Regions from separate parts of the Homo sapiens genome. Here all the other regions are linked to region 1. The links come from fine-mapping of genetic effects on gene expression. A gene starts in region 1. Each other region holds a variant in brackets. All regions are shown on one strand. Distances are between the middles of the regions.

The links.
Region 2: its variant is fine-mapped to the expression of PITRM1 in subcutaneous fat (GTEx, PIP 0.94).
Region 3: its variant is fine-mapped to the expression of PITRM1 in whole blood (TOPMed, PIP above 0.99).
Region 4: its variant is fine-mapped to the expression of PITRM1 in testis (GTEx, PIP 0.98).
Region 5: its variant is fine-mapped to the expression of PITRM1 in monocytes (TOPMed, PIP above 0.99). The same link has a PIP of 0.9 or more in CD4 T cells.

Annotation. Positions count from the first base shown.
Region 1 is chr10:3,171,188-3,175,307 of GRCh38, forward strand. It overlaps PITRM1 (pitrilysin metallopeptidase 1), which reads right to left and starts at 1,595. Exons shown (of 27, transcript NM_014889.4): 1 at 1,530-1,595. The coding sequence starts at 1,585. RefSeq lists silencers at 1,120-1,959, 2,250-2,409 and an enhancer at 2,608-3,145.
Region 2 is chr10:3,925,047-3,929,166 of GRCh38, forward strand. All of the region lies in intron 1 of LINC02660 (long intergenic non-protein coding RNA 2660), which reads left to right. Among named protein-coding and RNA genes, the nearest start is that of LINC02660, 15 kb to the left of the region's middle. The variant C/T (reference allele first, on the strand shown) is at 2,327.
Region 3 is chr10:3,143,006-3,147,125 of GRCh38, forward strand. PITRM1 (pitrilysin metallopeptidase 1) reads right to left here. Exons shown (of 27, transcript NM_014889.4): 21 at 2,591-2,711; 22 at 1,287-1,361; 23 at 384-496. It overlaps PITRM1-AS1 (PITRM1 antisense RNA 1), which reads left to right. Exons shown (of 4, transcript NR_038284.1): 2 at 1-83; 3 at 851-981; 4 at 1,966-4,120. Among named protein-coding and RNA genes, the nearest start is that of PITRM1-AS1, 3.5 kb to the left of the region's middle. The variant A/T (reference allele first, on the strand shown) is at 1,854.
Region 4 is chr10:3,132,210-3,136,302 of GRCh38, forward strand. PFKP (phosphofructokinase, platelet) reads left to right here. Exons shown (of 22, transcript NM_002627.5): 18 at 171-232; 19 at 994-1,105; 20 at 2,274-2,373; 21 at 3,527-3,629. SNORD142 (small nucleolar RNA, C/D box 142) reads left to right here and starts at 1,895; the gene lies at 1,895-2,089. RefSeq lists an enhancer at 3,774-4,093. The variant C/T (reference allele first, on the strand shown) is at 1,988.
Region 5 is chr10:3,137,699-3,141,818 of GRCh38, forward strand. It overlaps PITRM1 (pitrilysin metallopeptidase 1), which reads right to left. Exons shown (of 27, transcript NM_014889.4): 24 at 2,989-3,114; 25 at 1,206-1,351; 26 at 537-639; 27 at 30-426. The coding sequence ends at 333. PITRM1-AS1 (PITRM1 antisense RNA 1) reads left to right here and starts at 3,903. Exons shown (of 4, transcript NR_038284.1): 1 at 3,903-4,071. RefSeq lists an enhancer at 3,643-4,120. The variant G/C (reference allele first, on the strand shown) is at 1,687.

The DNA of each region.
Region 1 (4,120 bases):
TACCAATATAAGGGCCTACAGTGGCATGTAACAAAGATATGGGTCACATAACGTGAAACAAAAGATACACATGATACAGTATTATCCTAAACAGGTATTATTCAAATAGGTAACAAGACATTGTCAGAACGCATAAAAATGGTAAAATATTAAAAAAAAAAAAAGCAAGGACATTTCTGTATGTTATGACCGTGATAATCTAAGAGGGAGGGAGAGAGTTACGAGCAGTTAGGGGAATCTTCAACTTGGTCACAGGGACACTAATTTTCTTTTTTGAGACAGATCTCACTCTGTTGCCCAGGCTGGAGTGCAGCGGTGCAATCTCGACTCACTGCAACCTCCACCTCCCGGGTTCAAGCAATTCTGTCTCAGCCTCCTGAGTGGCTGGGACTACAAGTGCTCACTACTACGCCCAGCTAATTTTTGTATTTTTAGTAGAGACAGTTTCACCATGTCGGCCAGGCTGGTCTTGAACTCCTGACCTCAAGTGGTCTGCCCGCCTTGGCCTCCCAACATGCTGGGATTACAGGTGTGAGCCACCGCGCCCAACCTATTTCTAATAATTATTCTCACCTGAATGAGATGGCTCACACCTGTAACCCCGCAATGCGAGAGGCTGAGGAGGGGGATCAAACCAGCCTGGGAAACAGAGCAAGATCCCTGCTCTTAAAAAACACGTAATTATTATTCTCTCCAATTGTATTATATGTCGTATGGGATTTTCTACATTAATGTATCCCACCGAAATATTTATTTTAAAGATAATATGTACAGGAAGAAAAAACCTATTCAGTCACTGGCAATATTATGAAGATATGCTATAACCAACATTTGCTTACTGATTTAGCAAATTTCAGAATTATGGGACAGAAGCGTTTTAAGAAGTTACTTATCAAGGACATGATAGGAAACTCCTGAGCGGTAAGGCCAGGCCGAACTCATGCCACGGACGCCCCGTGCCTCCCGGCCTGGGCCGGCAGCGCTGAACTATTACCTTATATTAAACACGGGCTCGTGGATTACCATGAACACTAAACTGCTTCGTCATTTTTTTCCCCATAAATTGAGTCATTAAAAAAACAAAACAGTTCAATTCCGGGAGGCGTCAGTTCTCTGAACACAGCGAGACTTTAAGTATGGGCTGTGGGCGCCTCGGGTCTCTTAAGGACTCGGCCTCCCAACAAAAATGAACTAGGAGCAAAGCTGTCAGCGAGAACCGCAAATGCCGACCCCATTTACTACCCCCGTTAAAGCCCACGCTAATGGAGGGCCCCGCCGGGAGCGCCGCGGGCAGGCCCGGCCCCCAGCCCGGGGCATCGCCCCTGGGAGTAGGAAGGAGCTCCGAGGTCCTCCGGCCTCGGAGCCTCGGATGCGGGAGCTCCAGGAAGGGCTCGGGGTGCGGGACGCCCACAGCTTGGGGAGCTGCCAGCCCCGGGCGCAGGGACGAGGACCCCTACGCCTCCGGCCTGCCCTGGACCCTCCCCTCCCGGGTACCAGCGCGCCGAGCGCCTCCCGTCGCAGCGTCTCACCCGCCGCTCAGCCGCCTCAGCACACACAGGCCCTGCCGCCCGCCGCAGCGCCACATTGCGCATGACGAGCACCTGGCTGGCGAGGAACCCCCTCTTAACCCGACGCAGGGCGCGGGGCGGGGCTTGCCGTGACAGCTACCACTCCTATTGGTCAACGCGAACAGCGACGTCCTCTGCGATAGGCTGTAGGTGAAAAGGGTAGGCCTCCACTGCTCTGGGACGGGCGGGAGGGCGGTGCGGACGGAGATGGGCGGGAGGGGCGGGGCCGACGTGCCGAAGGAGGCGGGCAAGGCGAGGGGCGTGGTACGGGTAGAAAGGGGCGGGGCCGTCTTGCCGAAAGGGGCGGGGTTCGGCCAGCAGCAGGATGTGGACAGATGATAGGAGGGGGAAGTGGGCAGGCGAGAAGTGGGGCGTGGCGAGAGGCGTGTGTATGCAGATGAAGTGGGGCCTGGTGAAGGGCGGGGCTGCGCTGGTGAAAAGAGGGGCTCCTGGAATGGCGTGCTGTGTTGGGTGGGGCTGTGCAAGTGATGGGAGGGGCTTAGCGAGGGGTGGCTCTTTGCAGGTGAGGAGTGGAGACCAGTGGGAGAGGGGATTGCAAGTGAGCTGAGCCTTGGGGGCGGGGCTTGCAGGTGACAGGGTGGAGCCTAGTGGGCGGGGATGCAAGTGAGCTGGGCCTTGGGGATGGGGCTTGCAGGCGATGGGGTGGAGCCTGGTGGGGCGGGGCTGCAGGTGAGCTGGGCCTTGGGGGCGGGGCTTGCATGCGAGAGGTGGGTCCTTGTGGGGGCAGGGCTGGCAGAAGTGGGTGGGGCTTGGTGATGGACCGCGGTGTTCAGGTGAGGGTAGTGGCCTGGTTGGGGGCTGCCGGAAGCTGGGCCAGGTGAAACTTGGTAGCCCTCTCTGGCCTTGGTGTGGGCGTTGGTCCTGTTTGTAGGGCTGAGCTGAGCTCCAAAGGCGTTCTGCTGCCCCGCCAGGCCTGAACCTTGGGGTCTGGGGGCTTCTTGGATGAGATCTCAAGGCTGCATGGCAGGTCCCAGGGCCAGGGCCCCACGGTGTCACACGTATCACGGATGGCCGCCAGCGAAGCACAGCACAGCTCCGAGCTGCTGCATGGGAGCCTGTGGCCCCCGCTGCTGCCTCCGCTTTCCTCTTCGTTTCGTGTCTAGGAAGATGCACCTGAGCCCCCTGACATTGCCCAAGTGCCCAAGGGCCCTTCTGGGAACCCCCAGAGAGGCTGAAGGAGGCCCCCGTAGGAGTGGGTGGTTCTGCACTGTGGGCCAGAAGGGGCCCTGGGATTAGCCACGCTTGGAGAGGGTGGGGTAGCCCTTGGAGGAAGTCCGCACCAAGTCTGACCTTCCGGGTTTCTCAGAGCCTCTCTTCCTTCCTCCCTTCACCTTCTCCCTCTTTTTTTCCCCTTGTATCACGAATACAAACAGGCTCAAATCTCCCTCTGTCTCCTAATGGGCTCTGAAAAAAAAAATTAAAAATTAAATGGTAAGTAGATGGCTGCAGTCGGCTTGAACAAGCTAAAACTTTGGAAGCAATGTGGAAGGTAATACTGTGGGAAAAAGTCCCAACGTGTCTACCCTAAACTCTCCATAGGGCAGCCAGTTCTGGGCTGCAGGTAAACACGTACCTCCTTATTGAAGAGCCCAAAGGAACCAGAACACAGGCAATAATAGGAGCGACAGACACAAACACGCTCTGCGCATCACCCGTCTTCTAGGGAGAATTTGGGTGTGTGCACACAAAATATCCGATCTAGGTCTCAATCAATTTAGAAAGTTAATTTTGCCAAGGTTAAGGGCATGCCCATGACACAGCCCCAGGAGGTCCAGATGACATGTGGCCAACATGGTCGTGGCACAACTTTTTTTTTTTTTTTTTTTTAATACCGTGTCTCACTCTGTCGCCCTGGCTGGATTGCAGTGGCGCAATCTTGGCTCAGTGCAACCTCAGCCTCCCGGGCTCAAGCGAGTCTCCTGCTTCAGCTTCCCGAGTAGCTGGGATTACAGGCACCCACCACTATGCCCAGCTAATTTTTTTTTTTTTTGTATTTTTAGTAGAGACGGGGTTTCACCATATTGGTCAGGCTGGTCTCGAACTCCTGACCTCGTGATTTGCCCGCCTCCGCCTCCCAAAGTATTGGGATTACAGGCGTGAGCCACCGCGCCTGGCCACAACTTGCTTTTATACATTTTAGGGAGATATGAGACATCCACCAATATATGTAAAATGTAGATTGGTTGGGTCCGAAATGGCAGGGCAACTCCAAGTGGGGGCTTCCAGGTTGTAGGTAGATAAGAAGGAAATGGTTGCATTATTTTGAGTCTCTGATTAGACTTTCACTGAACACACAACTTATATTTGAGAGGAGGGTAGAGAAGCAGTCACTGATGCCTTAGTCTGACTCAGTGAAACAATGGGGCAGAGGAAGTGATCAGATATGCGTTTGTCTCACCCGTGAGCCTCAGGAGGATGACTTTGAGTTCTGCCTGTCCTTGGTCCACAAGGAATTTCCTTGTGGACAAATTGTGAGAAAAGTATGTGGCTTTTTAAAATCCTTATAGCTGTCTTACTTAGAAATAAAATGG
Region 2 (4,120 bases), 750 kb after region 1:
CAGTTTTGTATTTTTATTGGAGACGGAGTTTCACCATGTTGACCAGGCTGGTCTCAAACTCCTGACCTCAACTGATCCACCCGCCTTGGCCTCACAAGGTGCTGGGATTACAGACGTCAGCCACTGCACCCAGCATGTAAAGTATTTTCTCTAACATATAATTTAAATACCAAATAAAGGCATGCTATGTGTTTCATTTAATGTCCAATTAAATGGAGTCAAATCTCACCCTCATGTCAAATTATCCTTCAGCCTATGTGCTGGGACAAAAGTTTTCATGACTGTAATCACCACAAGGCCTTCCTGTGTTGTACATGCAGATGGCCACAGCCTCACAGTCTAGTAGAAAAGTCTACCCGAAGCCTCTGAGAGGCCCAACATAATCAGGGACCACAGGAAACAGTAGAGCAATAGCAATGAAAAGGGGACGGAGTGCTGTGGGGTTCAGCCAGTGAAATGTGAAGAAACTCCAGGTCCTAGAATGTGGAATCCAGGAGAGCCACAGGCTTGCAGTCAGAGTTCGAGGGCCAGGCCGACTAAGAACTGGAGAGGCTGGGATTCACCGGGAGGCATGGGATGGAAGGGGTTGTCACCACACAGGAGCCAGGAACCCAGAGACAGGCAGCTGCAATGCAGAAAGAGGAAAAGACATCTTTTGAGGAAGCAAGCAAAAAATAATTCTGAATTAGTTTATACTGGTCCAGAGGTTTGTTTTAGTGCCAGCAATGGAGATATCAGTAAAAACTGAATCCTAATTATAATAATATTTTTAATGGAATAAATGCATTTTATCAACTTGAATTACTTATCTCCTTATTTTATATTATTATATATTACAAATATATGATTTTTATATATCTTTTTTTTTTTGAGACAGAGTCTCACTCTGTTGCCCAGGCTGGAGTGCACTGACCTGGTCTCCACTCACTGAAACCTCCACCTCACGGGTTCAAGTGATTCTCCTGCCTGAGCCTCCCGAGTAGCTGGGACTACAGGTGCAATGCCACCATGCCTGGCTAATTTTTTTTTTTTTTTTGTATTTTTAGTAGAGACAGGGTTTCACCATATTAGCCAGGATGGTCTCGATCTCCTGACCTTGTGATCTGCCCGCCTTGGCCATATATATCTTATTATATATGTATATATACTCTCCAGTCTGAGTTCTTCTCCTTCCTTTATAATTCTTACGTACGTGGTGTACATTGCAGAGAGCTTCATGAATGAAAACCATCTGAAATGTGTCACGGAATAATTATAAATATGGATACATGGAGAGGAATGTGGTAGAGCAAGACACTTTGAATCATCCACAATTCCCTCCACAACTGTCTTTTTTCCCAAGCTCTTTCAAATCTCAGATCATACCACTAAGAGGCTGTTACTGTTGGTGTTGTTCTTTGTGGTAGACAAAGAGGCATTGGCCACCTGCTGTTCTGTGCACTTTGCATGAATTCTGTAATTTTAAAGCGATCATAACGAGGAGGTGGATATGACCCCTGCTGTTAGGAGAGGAGGCATTGGGGCTGTTTTACATCACTCCTTTTATCCCAAAACTTTGTGGTTTTGGTAACGAGATAGGATGGCTTACCTTCCTTTTAACAAAGAAGATCTCCAGAATTAATATGTCTGAGGCACCATTGGCACATTTAGGTGGAAAGAGATTTGAAATAGTAATGCATTGCCAAAATTGCCTGAAACATCACATCATCTTTTTCAAAGAAATAACAGTTTCCCAAAACCGTTACCCTCCCAAACTCGCCCCCCTCCCATTGCAGCATATTCTAAATTATTCCCACGGGTGGGCCTTCGTTTTGAGAATGGACGTGATGCAATGTGCTACATTCTTGGAATTGGCAGCGGAAGAAAATTCTCAGAGTTTTCAGTGCTGGGAGCATAGATAAGGTGGCCAGTAGGCAGGGATTTCCCAACACGATTCATTCCTCACGAAAACCCTGAGTGCATGTCAACAAGCTCTTTTTCTAGATGTGGGCATCTCCGTCTTTGCTTTTTAAAATTCTTGTGGGTGAGAAGAAAATTCACCTGGCAAAGCTGCAGCTGGGCCCTCTGACGGCAGTCAGCAAAGACGCCTCCCTGACCTGGCGGTGTGTCTGAGCTCGTATTTTCCTTCCCGCATCTGTAAAGTGGTAGGTGACTGTAAAGATGATGATAAGCTTCGGAGCAGTTAGCACACTAACTGTAAAATTCCTGGGTGATGAAGGTGCCAGCAACCAAAGCAGGTGATTTTTGTCTCCTGGGATTCCCTTCAGCAGCAGGGCTGGCTCAGTTATGCTGGGTGCTTAGAGCACATGGTGGCCTGCCCACTGCC[C/T]GCACCTGGTGAAGAATGTAGAACATCCCGCACCAGCATAGAAGATCTGCAAAGAAACTCTCTACTTCATGCTACAGAATATTCAGCAAGTCAGTGGAAATAGCGATGCCAACCTATAAAGTACAGGAAAGGTGTTAAAAGAATGTGTAAGATTTAAGTACATTCTCTACATTCATATATTTATCTATTAATCAAAGCCCCAAATAGGTCATAACTTAGTTATTTTAAAATAACTTGTTTTTAGGGCTGGGTGTGGTGACCCACTCCTGAAATCCCAGCACTTCAGGAGGCCAAGGCAAGAGGATCACTTGAGGTTAGGAGTTCAAGACCAGCCTGGCCAACATGGCAAAAACCCATCTCTACTAAAAATACAAAAATTAGCTAGGCGTAGTGGCACTCGCTTGTAGTCCCAGCTACTCGGGAGGCGGAGGCAGAAGAATCATTTGAACCCAGGAGGTAGAAGCTTCAATGAGCCAAGATGGTGCCACTGCACTCCACCCTGGGAGACAGAGCAAGACTCTGTCTCAAAACAAAACCCCCCAAAACACCATCAATTTTAGTTGATTTTAAAATACAGAGGCGTGTAAAGAAGTGTGATTTTGATTGCACCAAGATAACTTGGACTGACTTTTTTTCATGGTTAACAATAAGTGACCTTCACATAGAACATTTAAGCAGACTAGACAGCTATAAAATAAACTTTTCCCTTCATCACATTCTTCCCCCAAAATTGTTGCTTTTTCTTGATTATTTTTCCAGAAAAATAAACACATACCTCAGCCTGTATGTGCACACTTACACACACGCACGCACACACACACAGACACACTATACTATTTTAAGTCCAGCAATATCTGGTGATAACCACCCATCTTCATAGAGCTGGCCCAGTGCCTGGCTGTTCCACATCCCGTGCAAGCAGCATTAACTGTGCACATAATAGCATATAAGGTGCATTTTGGTCTGGGTTTATGTTATCTGCTTATCTGCATTTCAACAGAAAAAGTTTTGTCTTGCTTTTGCCCTGATTCCTTTATGTTTTAACTGAGTTTACAATGAAAAAATACAAATATATAAATAAATATATGACACTTATTATGCTCAGAGACTAAAGCAGTTATTAAGAGAATTGTAAGAGAAACTACCAAAATACACAACAGCAAAATAAAGGACTAGTAAATATATATTTATAGCTTTTAATACTTAAATTGTCCCCATGAGAGACTGTCAACTTGACTGTAACTAGATTCCATGTGTATTTTATATGTTATTACACATATTGAAAAGATATATCACAATGACATTTAAAATTGATGAATGCAATTTACCCAACTGTTGACTTCACAGTCACTCTACGTGGCGCTCTGGATGACACAAAGATAAGACACTGGAGTTCTGAAGGATGTTACTCTAAATGGAGAAAAGAATACCTGCAGAAAAATGGCAATCATGCATTATAAATATAGCAAATGGCTTGCTACCAGTCAAAATAAAGGGCTTTTTATAGTCTGTAGATTCCCAAGTAAATATAGAAATCCTGCCTCCTTTCAAGTGACAGACTGTTTGATAGAAAGTCAACTTGTTGGGTGGAATGAGCTGGGACCAGGAGAAGGAGAAAGGGAGGGGTGAGAAAGAGTAGAAGGCTCATTTTAAAAATCATGTCTGGGCCAGGCGCAGTGGCTCACGCCTGTAATCCCAGCACTTTGGGAGGCCGAGGCAGGCGGATCACGAGGTCAGGAGATCGAGACCACCCTGGCTAACATGGTGAAACCCCATCTCTACTAAAAATACAAA
Region 3 (4,120 bases), 28 kb before region 1:
GCATCTGTCCTCATGAAGGCTTAACCTACCATGTTTATCAGAAATCTCAGCCTAAATTCATTCGATTTTTACCTAGAGATGAGGTGAGTACATGGGGCATGTTGAAAGCAGTCTGTGTTTAAGGTCATAGGTATCTGTATTGTTCATAGGACTCCTCAATAATAGAAATTGTTTACAAAAATGACTGGCTCTAAAACTGGGTCTCTGTTCACAAAGACTGCTGGTTAAAGAGGAGCACTCGTAGACTCACACAGCCCCAGGTCCAACACTCAGAGTCAGCACAGACTTTTCCTGTGCTAAAACACGCCCTGTGAACTCGAACAGCCTTGACAAGCTCTTCCGTAAGGCTCAGGCCTGAGAGGTCCCGACCTACACCCTCCTACCTGGCATGATCTGGGTCCGTGTAGGGGACAGTTCGGATGCATTCACCCACGTAATTCACCGGGAAGGGCATCAGGAAGTGAGTCTTCATCTGCCAGGGCTTGAAGGTGGGTTCCTGAGGGACACGGTATGGTCAGAGGCGGCTGTGCTGCCATGCACCGCCCACGGCACTGGGACTGGACCCACTCAGGGGTCAGAGGCGGCTGTGCTCCCACGCACTGCCCACGGCACTGGGACTGGAGCCATCTCAGGGGTCCCATCTCCGTGACACTCTGCAGCCAGGTGCTGGGGCGCGAGAGCAAGGCACTGCAGTTCCGTCACTCCACACAATTTCTCACTGTAAAACTGACATGAAGTCCTCCAATCTTGACGTGATGCCTTAACGTATACTGTTCAATTAAAAACATTTCATTCTACGCCGTTTATATCACAGTTACATATTTATATTTCATATCATATTATATCATAGGAATGTGTTAAATCACTCTACTCCACAAGGAACCAAACCAAACAGCATCAGCACCAGGCTGAGTCGCGGAAAGGATCTGTCAGACCGCTCCACTGGCATCGACTCAGCTCGGGAGCTACGTTCAAAGAAGGGTGAGTTGCCCGGGAGGAGACCACCCAGAGCAGTAGCCCTCTTCCTGGGCACAGGGAAGACGCACCCCATACCAGGGCCCTCCTCGGCACAGGAGGACACACCCCCACCAGGGCCTTCACTCAGTACTGTCTGAGAGAGAAAAGGCTCAGGGTGGCAGTGACAAAGGATGCACTGAACTCGCAACTCTAGGGACACGCCAGCCCCACAGACAGGCGGACGGAGGAACATTCGAACATCAGTGGCAGACACAGCCATGCAGGGAAGCACCCACCCGCTGGCAACCCGGATGGGCTGTGGTTCTTACCATGACCAGCTTCCTAATGACCTGGGAGCCATGGGGAACGTGGGCATCTCCACCAGAGCTGCTGGGCACAGGTTTCTGAAAATCAAGTTTCCAAGAGAAAAGAGAAAAATCCAGAACTCACTTGAAATATATAAGAAGTAACAGAGTTTATAAAATTCACACAGCTAATAACAAGTGTTAGGGCAGGTGTAAGTGTTTTAAATAATAAACGCTTAAAAAAAATAAAAATAGGCTGGGCAGAGTGGCTCATGCCTATAATGCCAGCACTTTGGAGGCTGAGGTGGGAGGATTGCTTGGGTCCAGGAGTCTGAGACCAGCCTGGGCAATGTAGTGAGCTCCCATCTCAACAAAAAATTTTTAAAAATTAGCTGGGCATGGTGGTGCACACCTGTAGCCCCAGCTACTTGGGAGGCTGAGATTGGAGGATCACTTGAGCCCAGGAGGTCACGGCTACAGCTAGTTGTAATGGCACCACTGCACTCCAGCCCGAGTGCCAGAGACAGACCCTGTCTCAAAATAACAAAAACTAAAAAAAGAAATAAAGTGAGTAAAAGAAATTAAGAAAAT[A/T]TTAAAATAAATTTTCAGACAGTCAAGGAAAAGGTAGCCTTGTTATATGGTACAAAGAAAATATTTTAACCTTTCTTTCTGCACTTTCTTGTCATTAATCTGTCAAATCAAGAGGACATTTAAGGTGAAAGGGTTGCAGGCAGAGGGGCCTGGAGCAGCAGGAGGCCACCTCCCAAAGGCTCCACTCCCAGGGGCCAACAGAGAGACCACATCCAGAATTGAACCAGGGATACGCAGACACCAACGGAGAAGACATGAGCGTCAACCTCCTCCACGGAGCAGCACGGCTTCTCTACTGACATCCATGAACTAGACTACAACTCTCTAAGTTAATCAAATTTACTAAGTTAGTTATCACCGACATCACTGTTCCATGTCAAATCCATGGATTCATGAGTCAAAGAAACAGCAGTGAACAGCCTTCAGGCTACGGTTTGGGCCATTCCTCTGCCAGCGTATTCCAGCCAAAGTCTGTTTTCCTATCAGACTACTCACTGCAAGGCACAGAAGTGAGCGCGGGATCTAAGGCCACACCGCAGGGTCTGAACTCACTTAACTGGCCCAACACTGCACAAGATACTTAATCCTCCTGAACCTCAGTTTCTTCATCTGCGTACGGGGGATATGAACCCCCACATGCTGGACTGCTCTGAGAATTGAGTTAATGCGTGTAAAACATGAGAGCTGCTCTGGCACCCACCAGGCGCTCACCGGGCGCCAGCACCACCAGTGCATACCTCGACCGTGTGTGGGCGCACAGGCCTCCGTTCCTTTTTACTCCGACCGATGCTTCTAAGGAAGTCTTCGACCGCTTTTTCTGTCTGAGGCATCTGCTGAGGAGTCGCATTCACTGAACACCTGTTTGAAAAATTATGTATACATAAAACCACTGTTAGAAAAAACAGTTTTAGTAATTCATCACATTTTGTATAACTCAATAATGTTGTTTTTATAGAAAATACTGTTCAGAGTGTTAAACAGCAGCCAAATGTGGAAATGCCACGGCCGCCTCCCTGCTCTTCAGTGCTTCAGGTTATCAAGAGATTTCCGCACAGTTCAATGTGGCAGCTAATGAAGCCGTCCATACGCGGAGCCTGTGACTCTAAACTCTAGTTCTTCTGAAGAGCAAAGAAAATACAGAGACTATTAAGATCTGCTAACCGTGCCTTCGGAATTACACTATCAAAACACTGACAACTTTTAAAATTACTGTCCAGAAGTCATCAATTTGAAAATGTGAACTGGTTGTTAAAGCAGAACATTATAAACTGCAAAAAAATACCATGCTCTCAAAGTTACATGAAAATAGAACTCTTCCAAATTCCACAGAATTGCAAATACTACTATCATATAAAAGCTACTTGAACTCTACAGTATATTGACAGAGTGTATATTTTTTCCTTTCAGCTGTAAATCCTGAACTTATTCTAGTTAAAGTAACAGCAGGTACCATTATATTAATACTAACTATATCCCAGGCATGTATGCTGCCTTGCAGATATTCTTTCTTTTATTCCTTACGATAAACCTGCAAAGGAAGGTTTTATGGAGGAGGAAGCAGAAGACGCAAGTGGGTCAGCTGCCCAGGACCGCCTGGGAGCGAGTGTGAGTGCTGACCCGGCGGCACCAGAAGCCAGGCCTGCCTGAGCCCAATGCCAAGAGACCCTGATCGCCAGGCTTCACCTCTGGCCACCCACAGACCGCCCTGTAGAATCTGCCAGGGATTCTCAGGACATGACTGGGGAAAGGCATCAGGACTCTGTGTGAAGAAGGACAAGTGACTTCAGCAAACATTTTCTTGTTAAGTACTGATGAATACATCAATGTCACTGACAATAAGATGCTGAAAATAAACAATCATTTTTAAACTTTATTCATGCTCACACATCTGAGGGCATAAGGCCAACTGAAGGTATAGGACTGAGCTGCCAGATGTTTCCTCAAAGCATCACATAATTTTATAAGAAACTGCACTTTTACTCTGGTCTTCAGCAAGCTCACCTTTACAGATACCTCAGTTACGGACCATGTGCTTTTGGAAGCAATATAACTACTTGCCCTCAATCTATTTGCACTTCTAGCACAAAATTAGCCTGCTTTCTTCCCCATCTCCTACAACTTTTAATAGGCTTAAAATATTTTCTTAGTTTGTTAGAACACTTGACATTTACAATAAATTCTATAACCTTTACCAAGCACTCTATCTTGAAGTTTCTACAAGTAAGAAATACCTAAAAACTATACTTAATAGAATGAATCATAAAATA
Region 4 (4,093 bases), 39 kb before region 1:
GTCCTCCCTATCTGGGAGGAGGCTCCCCAAGACCCAAGCCGCGAGAGCTGCAGCCTCCTTGGCCACGCTCACTGCCACACTTGGTTGGCACTTCCCAGCCTGCAGTGCCTGGCACACAGTAGGTACTTAGTAGAAGTTTATTGTCTGATTAACAAAATACTCTCTTCCAGTCCAACGTGGAGCACCTGACGGAGAAAATGAAGACCACCATCCAGAGAGGCCTTGTGCTCAGGTGAGAGAGAGAGACCAGGGGCTGATCTTACCCTCACCGCCACACCCTGGTTCTTAGATTCTAGTCTGTGACTTGGGCTGGATGAGTGGTCATTTCTTTGCCGCTAGAGTGCACTACACACACTGAGCAGGTGCAGAAGACAGCTGTGGTGCATTGCTCTAAAGGCTTGCCTGCATTTAGACAACTAATATTTTTGCTTTATAGTCTCTTATTCTTTGATATCTTGCAATCATTTCCCTAATTAGCACCTGATGTTTATGAAGAAAGAAGGAAATACAGTCATCCCTCTTAGCCTCAGGGACTGTGTCCCAAGACTGCAGTGGGTGTCTGAACCTGGGGATAGTACCCGCCCCCTGTATACACGAGGTTGCTTCCATCTGATAACCAAGGTGGCTACTGAGTGACTCGGGCAGGAGGCACAGACAGCATGGAGATGCAGGGCACAGGGATGATTGACGTTCTGGGTGGGACAGCAAGAGAGCACGAGATTTCATCACGCTACTCAGAATGGTGTGCAATTTAAAACTTACATATTTATTTCTGGAATTTTCCATTTAATATTTGTGGGCCTCAGTTGACCACTGGACCATGGGTAACAAACTGCAGAAAGCAAAACCGTGAACTGGAGGGACTGGTGTTGATGTAGAATCACCATAGGGTTGGGGGATGCGGGAGTCCAGCCTCCCAGGGCCATCTCCCCAAGCAGGGAGCCACGTGCCCACTGCACGCTAAACAAAGTGACTCCTTCTCGCTCGTTTCAGAAATGAGAGCTGCAGTGAAAACTACACCACCGACTTCATTTACCAGCTGTATTCAGAAGAGGGCAAAGGCGTGTTTGACTGCAGGAAGAACGTGCTGGGTCACATGCAGCAGGTAGGCCCGAGACTGCATGAGGGGCCACAAAGCCCCTGTCATGTGACTTTTAAAAGATTAGTGTCTTATTTTAGCCATTGTGGGGAAAAATGTATAAGTAAATTCCAAGATGATAAAAAACATCTGAACTTTTTGAGACAGAGTCTTGCTCTGTTGCCCAGGCTGGAGTGCAGTGGTACAAGCTTGGCTCACTGCAACCTCCACCTTCCAGGTTCAAGTGATTCTCCTGCATCAGCCTCCCGAGGAGATGGCAGTATAGGCACCCACCACCACACCCAGCTAATTTTTGTATTTTTAGTAGAGATGGGGTTTCACCACGTTGGCCAGGCTGGTCTCAAACTCCTGACCTCAGATGATTCACCCACCTCAGCCTCCCAAAGTGGTGGGAATACAGGCCTGAGCCACTGTGCCCAGCCAAAACATCTGAACTTTTAAGTGATGCCAAACATCACCAGCTTTAGGATTCTTTTGTTGGTGAGGTTTGAGTAATGGGGATTTTAAGGGAACTGTCAGCTTTCATGAAAACAGTGATACCCCCATTACTTGGAAATGCTTATTCAAATTAAACACTTCATCAAGTTAAAAACTGGAGCTTCCCTAAGATTTAAAATGGATTATCAGACATGTAGTATACTTGACACCCCAAGTCAGAATGACCTGGAATGAGCTGCACACAGGCACACACGTGTTATGAGCTGAGCCTGGGACACAGGGTCCAGGCCTCCTAACTTGCACACACTCCTTCCTCACCACCTCCTATTCTTATACTTTTAAGCCAGAGCCCATGAATCCCCTGCAATGATGATGAAATAGTAGGCATATGTGTGATCTTCTTAAAGAATCCACAACGGTTATCAGATTAAAGCTGTGACCCATCCCCAG[C/T]TCAGATGAGTTCATGAAATCCTGATTTAAGATTTTAAAATAATGAAGATTGTTAGTTGACTTGTTCGGTTTATTAAAATCCTCATCTTACTGAGCGGGGGGAACACTTGATACTTTTTCTTAACAGGCCAAGTTCAGGCTACGGGAATCACAGGTTTTGTTCTGTTCCAACTATAAGGACCTAGAAATAAAAACATGAATTCTGCAAAATAGAAATTGTCATTTCTATTTAACAGCAAAGTGTTACTGTATAACTGGTATTTCATATAACTCTAACCACCAACAGGGTGGGGCACCCTCTCCATTTGATAGAAACTTTGGAACCAAAATCTCTGCCAGAGCTATGGAGTGGATCACTGCAAAACTCAAGGAGGCCCGGGGCAGAGGTAAGGGGTCTGGGGAGGGAGGCCACAGCCTCGTGATGCAGGCCGTCCTGCCTTGGTGAAAATGCTGTCCTATCGGGGAGAAGTAGGGTGCTGGTTCCTTCTTCAGTTCAGTACTGAGCTGCACGTGATGTTTTACTCCTGATCTCTGAGTGTTGCTATTTAACCAACCTTGGATTCCTGGGATAAGATCAGCTTGGGTATGACATGTTCTCTTTTATCACTGCTAGATGCAGTCTGCAGTTCTTTTGTGCAGGCTTTTTGCTCTAGAGATCCTGAACGTTGGCCAGCAATTTCCCCTCACAGTTTAAGTGGGGCCTTCTATTTTTTGAATGTTTGCTAGGACAACCTCCTTGTGACTATCCATCAAAACTTCCAGTTTTGAGGAAGATCTGACTGCTGAATGAATTGTTCATGTTTGTAGAACTGCATGTTCGTAGAACTGTGCATGTTCTTCCTTAAATCAGTTCTGTAAGTTACATATTCTAAGAAATCTTTAAACTGAAGTTTCAAGAAACATGACTTTTTTATAATACTCTTGTTAATGGCTCCAACATGGCTGTTCCCCACTCATTCCTGAGTGGCTCTTTGTGCCAGCATCTTTCTCACCCCCACCCCCCTCAGCTTTCTTAATCAGTCATAGCAGATGTGTGCTTTTATTCCGGCAAACCACTATCACTGCCAGTGTCCAACTTAGAAAAATGACAGTCTATAAAAACCAGTGATGTGAATAGTTTCAATGGGTTTGTCTTTTTGAAGAACTGACTTTGGCTTTGATTCTTTCTACAGCGATTTTCTTTTGCTAATTTAGCTATGGATGCTTTTTGCCTCTCAGTGTGTGTATGTGTGAGCATAAATTAGTGTCCTGTAATTTAAGCTAATTTCCCTATTCCACTATTTAGTGAAAAATTCTCTCCACTGGGAGGAAAAAACAAAAGCTGCTTTCCAGGAAGCCCTCGGGGCAGTCCCACAGGAGCAGAGCTGCACGAGGCCAGGTGCTGGCCCCACTGCGCGGCTGTTCTCAGTCTCACTGGGCTTCCAGGCCGGGTTCAGCATGGTTCTGAGGAATCTCAGTTCTCATCTCGCCCCGTGATTCTGCTCCCCCACCTGCCCATGTTGACAGGGTGTTATTAATCTTTTTTAAAATCTTTTATAGGAAAAAAATTTACCACCGATGATTCCATTTGTGTGCTGGGAATAAGCAAAAGAAACGTTATTTTTCAACCTGTGGCAGAGCTGAAGAAGCAAACGGATTTTGAGTAAGTTGGCTGGGTTCCCTGAGGCAATAAGACCCCAATGTGAGTACGGGACAGGGGAATGGCCATTGCTGTTGCTGTCGGCAACTCATTCAGGGGTTTGAGGAACTGGCTTTTCTGAAGCTCAGTTAAAAAAATACTAGGTCTTGGCTGGGCGCGGTGGCTCATGCCTATAATCCCAGCACTGTGGGAGGCCGAGACAGGTGGATCACAAGGTCAAGAGATCGAGACCAACCTGGCTCATATGGTGAAACCCCATCTCTACTAAAAATACAAAAATGAGCCAGGCATGGTGATGCACACCTGTAGTCCCAGCTACTCAGGAGGCTGAGGCAGGAGAAATCGCTTGAACCCGGGAGGCAGAGGTTGCAGTGAGCTGAGATTGCACCACTGTACTCAAGCCTGGCGACAGAGCGAGACTCCACCACTGGGTCTTCGGGAATAATTTTAAACAATGGTTTCATTTG
Region 5 (4,120 bases), 33 kb before region 1:
GCTGCTTAAAATAATGACTCAAGCAGAGGTTAAGTCAGAGTTGCCCTTTATTTTTAGATTCTTAAATATTCTAGAATGAGGTAAAACGAGCCTGCCAGTACAAAGTGAAAATTCTACATGGTGCATCTTTGGCGCTTCATGCATGATTATTTCAATGAACCTCTTCCTGGTCACTCTTAAGATAGATCTGAGTTTTTGACTCGCCAGTCAAGGGCTTTGGCGACACTCAATGACATAATATTCTTGGAAAAAGCAGTAGCATTTCTGACTTTTCATATTCAGCTCGGAGGTGTATTGTCTCGGGCTCCTGTGCAGTCGAGCGCCACGGCTGCTCATTGGATGATCCAGGATGGGTCCTTGGCAATTTTCGGGTTCTCGGGTCCGAGGATGGCCAGGCCGTGTGTGCTCTTCCCAGTGCCGAGGTATCTGAGAGGAAGGCAGGCGTGGTCAGCAAGGACTGGCTTCTGCGTGAGCGCTGTTAGAGTCAGCACGAGGGCTTCCAGTCCCAGACGCTGTCTCCCCCGCTCCCCACTCACCTATCGCTCACGGCCAGGAGCTTGTCGTGGCTGACAGCAAAGAGCTGCTCTCTGTGGGCCTGCTTCATCTCATCCGAGAGGCCGTACAAGAAGTGGTCCATTCCTAGAAGACAATCCACAGGCACGATGGAGCCGCTGCCCGGGAGCTCGCGTTGTGGGCTGTGCACTCATGTCCCGGAGGGGACACAGGCATCTCACTGTCATTTCACGTGCATGTTTCAACCACAGGGATGTGTCTAACAACCCAGAGATCACACCCCGACCTCCAGCTCCCACGTGCCACGCTGACCCCTACCCACGCCTGCTTCTGCAGCAGGGATGCAGTCAGCGCCGCGTGAGGCTGATGATGCTGTGAGCAAAAGCGGCTCCAGAGAGTAACGTGGCCATGCCCGGGCCGTGCCCACGTCCTCCTTCCACCCTAAAGAGCCCGGACACTGCCATGGGTTGGCCCCACTGGGTCTCAGGTCAGTAAAACAAATGACAGGATGCACTCTTCTCGCCCGGATGTCAGGAAGCGTGTTTAGGGTGTCAGACGTGGAAATCGTATCACAAGCAAGGATGGAGGCACCAGAAGCTAGTGCTCCTGCCCATGCATGCCGGGAACTTGGAAAACAGCAACGTCATCTGTGAGGCTGTGGGTTGAGATTCTCACTGTTATACTCAAAATACCTTTGTCTGAAGGAGCGACAGGAGCATCTACGGTTGAGAAGACAGAAAGTTTGGCTTCGTCGATGTCTTGCTGTGTGAATTTTCCAGACTTAGCCCAGTCGACAGCCTTCCCAAAAGACTGGAGCGTCTCTATTGTATTTGGGTCCCTAGGAAACCCAGAGAAATAAACGGGCAAGCATTTTACCAGTGGACAAGTTTATGACAAACCTCTGTCGACTTAACAGTTCAACATCTTCTATGGGTTAACAGCTCTATTTTATATCTGATTTAGTCCAAACAGCCCACTGACAAATCGCTCAATTACTCTCAATGGAAATTTAAATCTGATCACATAAGCCTTTCAACATGTTCTCCCTCTTAGACAAGGTCTGTCTGCACAAAGTCCTCCCTAGATTATTTAAATACACTTCTCTGTGACCTCATCAGGAGAGGAAAGTCAGTGGAGGGTAGGGGCAGGTCAGGATTACAGGGAAATTACAAA[G/C]ACTTACATGGAAAAATTAAGCAAACAAAGGTTTTCCTTTCATCTCCCTGAAGACACACCCAGGGTAGTACAGGAATCAGCCTGAGGGGGCCAATCCAGACTTCCCTTCGTGTAAATGCAAAGAGCCCAGCCCTCCCTTCACCCTGAGCTGCAGAGGGGCGGCTGTGAGCTGCTTCCCCATCCTTGTCTAGAAGCATGGCTTCCAGCACAGCAAGGGGGAGAACTCATCAGAGTGGCAATGGCTACCTACGTATCTACCTACATGCCTGCCTACCTACCTAATCTAGCTATGCATCCACGGGACAGGGTCTCACTGTCGCCCAGGCTGGTGTGCAGTGGCGCAATCTGCTCACTGCAGTTTCAACCTCCCCAGGCTCAAGGGATCCTCCCGCCTTAGCCTCCTGTAGCTAGGACCACAGGCACTTGCCACTGCGGCCGGCTGGCTCCTTCTTAAAAACTGTTGGAATACATGTTCTCTTAGGCAGCAAAGCCATAGAAAATCAAGAATATTGCTTTACAGTAACGGTGTTATGTTTATGAAAGCTAACAGAACTGCATCCACATCAGGCACCTCCAACTGAAATGAGCTAAGAACGCTCTCAGGCTGTATCAGCCCCCTCACCTGGGGCCTGTGTTTCAGGACCCCCACGGCAGGGCTGCAACCTCAGACAGCCACTATGGATACTATGTTTTTTTCCTATACCTATGATAAAGTTTATAGATTAGGTGCAGCAAGATATTAACAAAATACAACAATTATACTGTAATAAAAGTTACGCTGATGGGCTACTATTAAGTAAAACAAGGGTTCTGTGAACAGAAGCTCTTGGATACCCACAGCGTATCTGATACCTAGACGGCTACTGGGTGACCAACAGGCAGGTACCGTAGACAGCGTCAGCTTTCATCCCACTGCTTAGAAGAATGGTGTACAATTTAAAACTTAGGAAGTGTTTATGTCTGGAATTTTCCATTTAATATTTTCAGACCGAGGGGGACTGTGGGTAATAAACCATGGAAGGCAAACCCACGGATGGAGGCACTACCGTGTTCTGCCAAAATATGCTGGCTGAAGCCAGGGTTTACTGAAGGCAGAATGCTTCCTGTTTCGGCTGCTGGCCCTAATCCTCGCGCCAGAAAGGACATTGCTGGGTGTGGCTAAGTGCCCAAGGAGTGAAAAGAAGCACACAGAACAACTTTTGTCTAAAATTCACTGCAGTAGAAGAAAATGACACTGATAATCATGAGTAGAAGACTAAAACGACGTGTGCATCCCAATGTGTGAACTAGAGCAAAACTCACCTGTAAGAGTAAAGGGTGAAAATCCCATTGTGGCTGAGTTTTGCGCCTCCACCATAAGCACCGCCTTTTTCTCGAATTTCTGTATGCAAGAATTTGGCAGTCATCAAACGTGCAAGGATTTTAAGACTGAAATGATTAAAAAATGCAAGTTAATACCGTGGCTGATAAAAAAGCATAGACAATGAAGTAATTGTTGGATTAAGTGAAAATGAAAATCGAGTTGTAAAATAATGCTGCATAAATTATGGTCCCATATTTTGGTCTTGTTTTTTAAGAGATGGGGTCTCGCTCTGTCGCCAGGCTGGAGTGCATTAGTGCAATCACAGCTCACTGCAGCTTTGAACTCCTGGGCTCAAGGGATCCTCCCACAACAGCCTCCTGAGTAGCTGGGCCTACAGGTGTGTGCCACCACGCCTGACTATTTTTACAGTTTTTGTAGAGGCAGGGTCTAGCTTTGTTGCCCAGGCTGGTCTCAAACACCTGGCTTCAAGTGATCCTCCTGCCTTCAAAGTGCTGAGCTTACAGGCATGAGATTTTCTTTTCAATTAACCAAAACTAAAAAGCACAAGGAAGCACAATTTTCAAACAGTTGGCTTAGATTACAGGGTTGAAGGGAGAGGTGGTGGGGAGGGAATCTTAACACTTCCAGCACCACACTGCTTAACTTGTTCCAATGCACATGTGGCATTTTTAAAATCTCGTGAAGTAGAAAGAGGTTATTTCTATTATAAAGGCAAATGAGCAAATGAACATTTATTTAAATGTCTCACATCAGAATATGGAAAGAAAGGAAACTGAAGTGAGTTTTATAAGAATCCCTTAAGAAAACACACACTCTCTGATAAAGCACATTTCTAGGAACAGGGCCAATTTCCTCTGCCTTCCACTGTGAACGGTAACATCACATTCAAGCTGATTCTAGAACACATCCACCTCCGACAGAAGGCGGGGCAGACAATGATGGGAGGGTCTGCAGCACAGACACAGGCTCCTTGAAGACGCCCGTGGTGAGATCAGCCCCAGGTCGCCGCTTCCACAGACAGGCCTTTTCCTAAAGTGGATGAAGGGAGTCAAATAGGCCAGGTGGGAAATCAAGGAAGGAGTGGGCGTGTTCCCAGGGGCTGTGGTGGGA